2 linked regions of the Homo sapiens genome follow. The protein of the gene in region 1 interacts with the protein of each later gene in a biochemical or structural test. Each region holds a gene or a part of one and is shown on either strand. Other genes may lie near its edges. The genes, in order: PLIN2 and UBR1.

Evidence for each region.
Region 2: the proteins of PLIN2 (region 1) and UBR1 form a complex in vitro, tested with the Homo sapiens proteins (one study listed by BioGRID).

What each region holds. Positions count from the first base shown.
Region 1 is NC_000009.12:19,120,906-19,124,725, forward strand, and holds part of PLIN2 (perilipin-2), read right to left. Parts: intron 2,743-3,820; coding exon 2,660-2,742; intron 261-2,659; coding exon 1-260. UniProt on the Homo sapiens protein: Structural component of lipid droplets, which is required for the formation and maintenance of lipid storage droplets.
Region 2 is NC_000015.10:43,099,306-43,103,125, reverse strand, and holds part of UBR1 (E3 ubiquitin-protein ligase UBR1), read left to right. Parts: intron 1-3,820. UniProt on the Homo sapiens protein: E3 ubiquitin-protein ligase which is a component of the N-end rule pathway. Recognizes and binds proteins bearing specific N-terminal residues that are destabilizing according to the N-end rule, leading to their ubiquitination and subsequent degradation.

The sequences.
Region 1 (3,820 bases):
TACTGTTCTACCAACAGCTCTGATTTGGTGAGTGCATTTTCTACGCCACTGCTCACGAGCTGCATCATCCGACTCCCCAAGACTGTGTTAATGCTGCCACTGACCACAGACTTGGTCTTCTCCACACTGCCAGTCACTGCCCCTTTGGTCTTGTCCATCACCCCTGTGATCGTGCTGGCCACAGAATCCTTGGCCCCAGTCACAGTAGTCGTCACAGCATCTTTTGCCCCAGTCACAGCGCCTTTGGCATTGGCAACAATCTGTAAGTAGAAAAGCAGATCCCCTGGCTGGTGAGAAAAATGAGCACAAGGACATACCTAAGGTCTTAACTAAGGCAGCACAGCTGAAGAGTTAAAGAAGGAATCTAGTCCTCTCACTCTAGCTTTAGGTCTTGGGCAAGTCACTAAGAGTTGATGAGCCTGAATTTCCCTATCAAGTATATCTGCCCTACCTGCCAATCCTTGGGAATTGCAGGAGGAGCAAATGAAGTAAACAGATATGAAATTTGTCTGTTTGCCAAGGCTGCAGTGAGCTGTGATTGTGCCACTGCACTCAGCCTGGGTGACAGAGCAAGACCCTGTCTCAAAAAAAAAAAAAAAAAAAGAGAAGAGAAAAGAAAAAAAAAGAAAAGAAAAGAAGGTAAGTTATATAGCTTATTCCAAAGTCACACAAATCCAGAGAGGAAACTGAAGATCAAACTATACCTGGCCCTCGGGGTGTTATTAGTATGCAGTTATTATACATGGCAGGGCATGGTGGCTCATGCCTGTAATGCCAGCACTTTGCAAAGCTGAGTTGGTTGGATCACCTGAGGTTAGGAGTTCGAGACCAGCCTCACCAACATGGTGAAACCCCGTCTCTACTAAATACAAAAAATTAGTTGGGCGTGGTGGCACATGCCTGTAACCCCAGCTACTTGGGAGACTGAGGCAGAAGAATCACTTGAACCCCAGAGGTGGAGGTTGCAGTGAGCCAAAATTGCACCATTACACTACAGCCTGGGCAACAAGAGCAAAACTCTGTCTCAAAAACAAACAAACAATGACAAAAAAAATTAGCTGGGTGTGGCGGGGCGTGCCTGTGAACCCAGCTACTGGGGAGGCTGAAGCAGGACAATTGCTTGAACCCAGGAGGAAGAGACAGCAGTGAGCCGAGATTGTGCCACTGCACTCCAGCCTGGGTGACAGAGCAAGACTCTGTCTCAAAAAAAAAAAAAAAAAAAAAAAAAAGAACACAAGTTACCAACATTTAAAGAAAATATCCGAAATGGAAAATAACTCTCACCATTAGCACAGTCTCAAGCAATGTAAGTGAAAAATTTAAAAGATTTGCACAAGCATTCTAAAGGCTATACACTAAACCTACCTATAGTTGTGTACCACATAATATTTTGGTCAGCGATGGACCACTATTCAATGATAGTCCCATAAGATTATAATGAACTGCCCTATAACAGGTATACTTTTTTTTTTCACTGTACCTTTTCTAGTTTAGATACACGAATACTTATCATTGTGTTACAGTAGTCAGTGTAGTCATGCTGTGCAGGTTTGTAGCCTAGAAGCAAGCAACAGGCTATATACCATATAGCCTAGGTATATAGCAGGCTATACACCATATAGCCTAGGTATATAGCAGGCTATACACCATATAGCCTAGGTATATAGCAGGCTATACACCATATAGCCTAGGTATATAGCAGGCTATACACCATATAGCCTAGGTATATAGCAGGCTACACCACAAGTCCCTAACCCCCGGGCCATGGACCATTACCAGTCCATTACCAGTCCATTACCAGTCAGAGGCGGCATTAGATTCTCATAGGAGACCTAACCCTAACCCTCTTGTGAACTGTGCACGTGCATGCTCCTTATGAGAATCTAATGATAAATATAGTGCACTTGAATCATCCCAAAAACACCACCCACCCCCTGCTGGTCCATGGAAAAACTGTCTTCCATGGAACCAGTTCCTGGTGCCATAAAGCTTGGGGACCACTGGGCTCTACCATCTAGGTTGGTGTGAGTATACTCTGTGATGTTCACACAATGGCAAAATCACCTAATGTGCATTTCTCAAAATATATTCCCATCACTAAGTGACAGATGACTGTATTTAGATTATGAAAAGACACAGAGCTATATTTTTCCCTAACTGGTATCCTTTTGTGCCATTCTGTATTCTTAATTTGAAACAAAATTTTAGGACATTATCTGAACCAAAGGATCACCAGGACAGACAAGCCTATCATTTTTGTCAACACTGGCTAGCTATCCCATATGGATGGTAGTTCCTGGCAGCATTGTACAAGCCAGGTGAGAAAAGGTTATATATATCACGTCTGCATTTATTTAATACCACAAGACAATCAGTTACTTGAGACAGCAATTTCATTTATAGGAGCAAAGACACAAACTGATAGACAACACACTAAAAGTTTTCTAATCCAAAGGAGGCTAGTTCTTCTCTGCTTCGTAGATACAACTTGACAACAGTTCAGGAAGTAAGGAAGTGGCCATTATTTTTCAAACATACATCCAGATCCAGGTTGGGAAAACAAGTATTTGCCTGTTTGTGATATGTACAGCTTGTTTTAACAGATAGAAGATGAAAACATGTGAAGTGTCAAGTCTCAGCACTTTTGTCCCAAGCTCACCTGAGTTGATGGCTGATTCAGAATAGGCAGTCTCTCCTCAATCCTGTCTAGCCCCTTACAGGCATAGGTATTGGCAACTGCAACTAGAATCACAAATGGGAAAATGTTAATGTAGTACTATAGGTATAGAATGAACACACATTACCATAGGCCTTATAAAAAATGGCAATAATGGGCTGGGCACGGTGGCTCACGCCTGTAATCCCAGCACTTTGGGAGGCTGAGGCAGGCGGATCACGAGGTCAAGAGATCGAGACCATCCTGGCCAACATGGTGAAACCCCGTCTCTACTAAAAATACAAAAATTAGCTGGGCGTGATGGTGTGCGCCTGTAGTCCCAGCTACTCAGGAGGCTGAGGCAGGAGAATCGCTTGAACTCAGGAAGCAGGGGTTCCAGTGAGCCAAGATGCATCATTGCACTCCAGCCTGGGTGACAGAGCAAGACTCCATCTCAAAAAAAAAAAAAAAGGCAAGAATGTTGATCTTATACAACAGAAGGCATTGCCTGGTTTATCTAGTTCTGACAGGAAGAGGCCTGGCAAGTTGCTGGCAACTCTCTTCTAAAGGTAAGGAAATATGGGGGTGTGAGGGAGGAGCAGGCAGAGGCAGTGACAGGCCAAACAGGAAGCTGGCTCTGAAGCTTCTTCCTTATCAACTGGCCCCTAATGTTAATGCCAAGAGTAGCCGGGCTTTCCCTGAACTGTCATTCAGAGAATAAGGTATCTGGAAACTCTCTCAAAATCGGCATTCCCATGCTAGTTTAATCCCTACCTACGCTTACTTCAGCACAGGTCAGTGTATTTGGGGTCCTCAGGAGGAAAGAGTATGCCAAGACCACCCTGGATCTCCCTAACAAGGGAGATTTTAGTGTGAGCTTCCCACTAAGAATACCAAACCAAGTACTAGTACCAAATTCATTTAGGAAGTAGCAGAGTTGGAATGGCTGGTCTCTAAAGGCTCCTTATAATCCTAAAAGTCCCTGGCTTAACCATTTGAAAGAATGATTTAAATCTTTATTCAAAAGCAGTTCATGTTGTGGAGAAATTGGAGCCTCCATACAGTGTTGGTGGGAATGTAAAATGGTACAGCTGATTTGGAAAACAGTCTGGCAGCTCCTCAAAAGCTTAAACAGTTATTATATAACCCAGCAATTCCACTCCT
Region 2 (3,820 bases), on another chromosome or scaffold:
TGCCATCTTGGCTCACTATAACTTCCACCTCCCAGGTTCAAGCAATTCTTGTGCCTCAGCCTCCCAAGTAGCTGGAATTACAGGTGTGTTCCACCACACCTGGCTGATTTTTGTATTTTTAGTAGAGACAGGGTTTTGCCATATGGCCAGGCTGGTCTCGAACTCCTGACCTCAAGTGATCCATCTGCCTTGGCCTCCCAAAGTGGTGGGATTACAGGCGTGAGCCACTACGCCCAGCCCGGATAAGATCTTTGAGGAGGAAAATGTGTGCATATATATACACACACACAGAGGAAAAGAGAGTGAGACAGAGATGATGAGAAAGAGAGAACAGGAATGATTGAAACGGGTGGAAAATGGAAGAATGAGGTAAGAACGTGGAAACAATAGGCAAGCACGTAGGAGGTGAGAGTAGTGTGATGGCATGGGGTATTATTTTGAGAGGGTGGTTTATTGGGTCCATGATAATGAGGACTGAGAAAAATTGGGAATCAAGAGACTTGTGAGGTAGTCTGCCAGAACTTCTGCCTTCTGTCTTCCTCGACTAGATTTTCTTCCTTAAGTCAATTTCAGAAGATACCTCTTGGCATGATACTCAGCTCTTTTCTATTGCCTGTTTATAACCTCTACCTAGGGGATTTCATCTAGTTCTGTGACTTTAAATACCATTTGTATGTATTCAGTTCCCAAATTTATATCTCTGTGTCATCTCACTTCTGAACTCCAGAATCATAAATCCAACTGCCTACTTGACATCTTCACTTGGATGTCTGGTGTTTCAAACAGTGGGAGCAATTAAGAAGTTGCTGCTGTAACCCAAGCCATAGTTGATGGTAGCTTGCACTGGAAAGGTTATCCTTGGAGATAGAGTGAAGAGGATGAATGTGAGAAAGATTTTAGAAGGATGGAAGAAGCAAAAAGACTTGCTGATAGATTAGGCATGAGGCAAAAGGTAAGGAATAGATGATATCTGCATCCTCAGTTTTTGGTTTAAGCATTCATGGCAGCGGTTGTGTTGTTTCCAGCGGTATGATCTCGGCTCATTGCAACCTCTTTGTCCCAAGTTCAAGTGATTCTCTTGCCTCAGCCTCCCGAGTAGCTGGAATTACAGGCATGCACCACCATGCCTGGCTTTTTTTTTTTTTTTTTTTTTTTTTGTGAGCCAAGGTCTCTCTCTGTCGCCAAGGCTGGAGTGCGTGGCGAGATCTCGGCTCACTGAAACCTCTACCTCCCGGGTTCAAGCGATTCTCCTGCCTCAACCTTCCAAGTAGCTGGGATTACAGGTGCCTGCCACCACGCCTGGTTAATTTTTGTATTTTTAGTAAAGAGAGGGGTTTCACCATGTTGGCCAGGTTGGTCTTGAACTCCTGACCTCAGGCAAGCCGCCCACCTCAGCCTCCCAAATTGCTGGGATTATAGGCATGAGCCACCGTGCCCAGCCAGTTTTTTTGTATTTTTAGTAGAGGTGGGGTTTCACCATATTGGCCAGCCTGGTCTCGAACTCCCGACCTCAAGTGATCCACCCACCTCGGCCTCCCCAGTTGCTGGGATTACAGATGTGAGCCATCGCACCTGGCCTTGGTTGTGTCATATATTGAGAGGAAAGACAAGATTTTAGGAGAGGAAAGGAGAAAGGCAGATCAAGAGTTTTGTTGTCCCTGTCTCAGTAGACAGCACCTCCATCATAGCTCTTGAAGACAAATAATTCTGTCTCCACCCATGTAGTCCAAGTCACTCTCTGTTGTCTTGGCTACTGCAGTGACTTCCTAACTGGTCTGTTTGCTTCCACTGTTGCCCTCTTCCTGTCCATTCTGCACAGAACAACCAGAGTAATCTTTTAAAGATTAAATGAGATCATGTCAGTCTCCTACCTAAATCCTCAGTGGCTTTCTCTTATACTTATAAACTCATTACAAGCCTTCAAGACTTTGCCTGGTCCAGCCCCTGCATCTCCACCTCATTTCCTGTTACATTCTCCTCACTCATCCTGGCCTGTTAGTACAAGCCCAAGCTGTATTTTGCTTTAGGGTCTGTGCTGTTGCTTGCTGTTTGCTTTTCCTAGAGTGTTCTTCCTCTGCTTTTTCTTAATACACACTCTGTCTAAAAGATGGGTTCCTCTTATTCTCTGTCAAAGCAACCTGTTTATTTCTCCCATTTCAATTATTACAATCTGTAATTACTGTATTGTCTTTATTTACTTAGCAAAATGTCTGTTTCTTCCTCCAGAGGGAGAGGTAAGTTCCATGAAGGGAAGGATCATGTGTGACTTGTTCATTGATGCATCTTTTTTTTTGAGACGGAGTCTCGCTCTGTCGCCAGGCTGGAGTGCGTGGTGCGATCTCGGCTCACTGCAACCTCCGCCTCCCGGATTCAAGCGATTCTCCTGCCTCAGCCTCCTGAGTAGCTGGGACTACAGGGGCATGCCACCATGCCCAGCTAATTTTTGTGTTTTTAGTAGAGACGGGGTTTCACCATGTTGGCCAGGATGGTCTCGATCTCTTGACCTCATGATCCATCTGCCTCAGCCTCCCAAACTGCTGGGATTACAGGTATGAGCCACCATGCCTGGCCACATTGATGTATCTTGGTATGTGATTGATACAGAAGACACTTAAATATTTTTAAATGAATGAATAACTGAGGATCAACATTAATGATTTATTGTAGTAAGATTAGTAGTGATTGGTGGATGGAGGTTGTAGATAGAAAAAAGGGAATGAGCCGGCATGTTAGGGTAGTGGCTAACCTTCGAGTCCAGGCTGAACAGGGAGGTAATAAAAGCCAAAACAGGAAATCTGGAGGGAATTGGTGGGATTGAGGTGTTAAAGGGCATGAGGTTGACATAAGTGGGAGGACTGAACTTTGTGGTCAGAAAGGGGCATTTTAGAATTTGAGTACATGGGGGCACATCAAGTTTTTGTGATGGTAGAGCCAGGTTAAAGGCACCTCTTGGCCTGGTGCAGTGGCTCATGCCTGTAATCCCAGCACTTTGGGAGGCCGAGGTGGGTTTATTATGAGGTCAGGAGATCGAGACCGTCCTGGCTAACATGGTGAAACCCCTTCTCAACTAAAAATACAAAAAATTAGCCGGGCATGATGGCGGGCGCCTGTAGTCCCAGCTACTCAGGAGGCTGAGGCAGGAGAATGGCGTGAACCTGGGAGGCGGAGCTTGCAGTGAGCTGAGATCACACCACTGCACTCCAGTCTGGGCGACAGAGTGAGACTCCGTCTAAAAAAAAAAAAAAGAGGCACCTCTTGTGTGTTCCTATAGCACCCTTTCTATACTCCTGTTTTATGGTTTTATGTAGCGTGTCTCAGACTGTACTCTACGTTACCTGTTTACTATGTGTCTTTCCTTCTAGACAGTGAAGTTCTTGAAGGCCTGAACTGTTGCTTGTTCACAGCTGTATCTAGTTTCTAGCACATTGCTTCAAAGTTTTTATTGAATGTATGAATGAATGAATGAATGAGAAGACACTGAGGTAGAGAGGAAGTGGGGGTAATAGAAGCTGAGAATGTTAAGAGATATTAACATTATTGAGATATAATTTACATACAATAAAATGTACCCATTTAAGGCGTTTCTTGGATAAATTTTAACAAATGTATATACTTGTGTGACTACCACCAAATCAGGTTATAGAATATTTCTGTTATTTCCCAAAGTTGTCTCCTGCTGAAATGGGAGGATTTTTTAAAAGTTTAATATTGTTATGGTTACGCAATAATCATTATGGAAATCAAAGAAAAATGTACCCATAATCTCATATCTGTAGGGGAACTTTTTTTTTTTGTTTTTTTGGAGACGTCACCCAGGCTG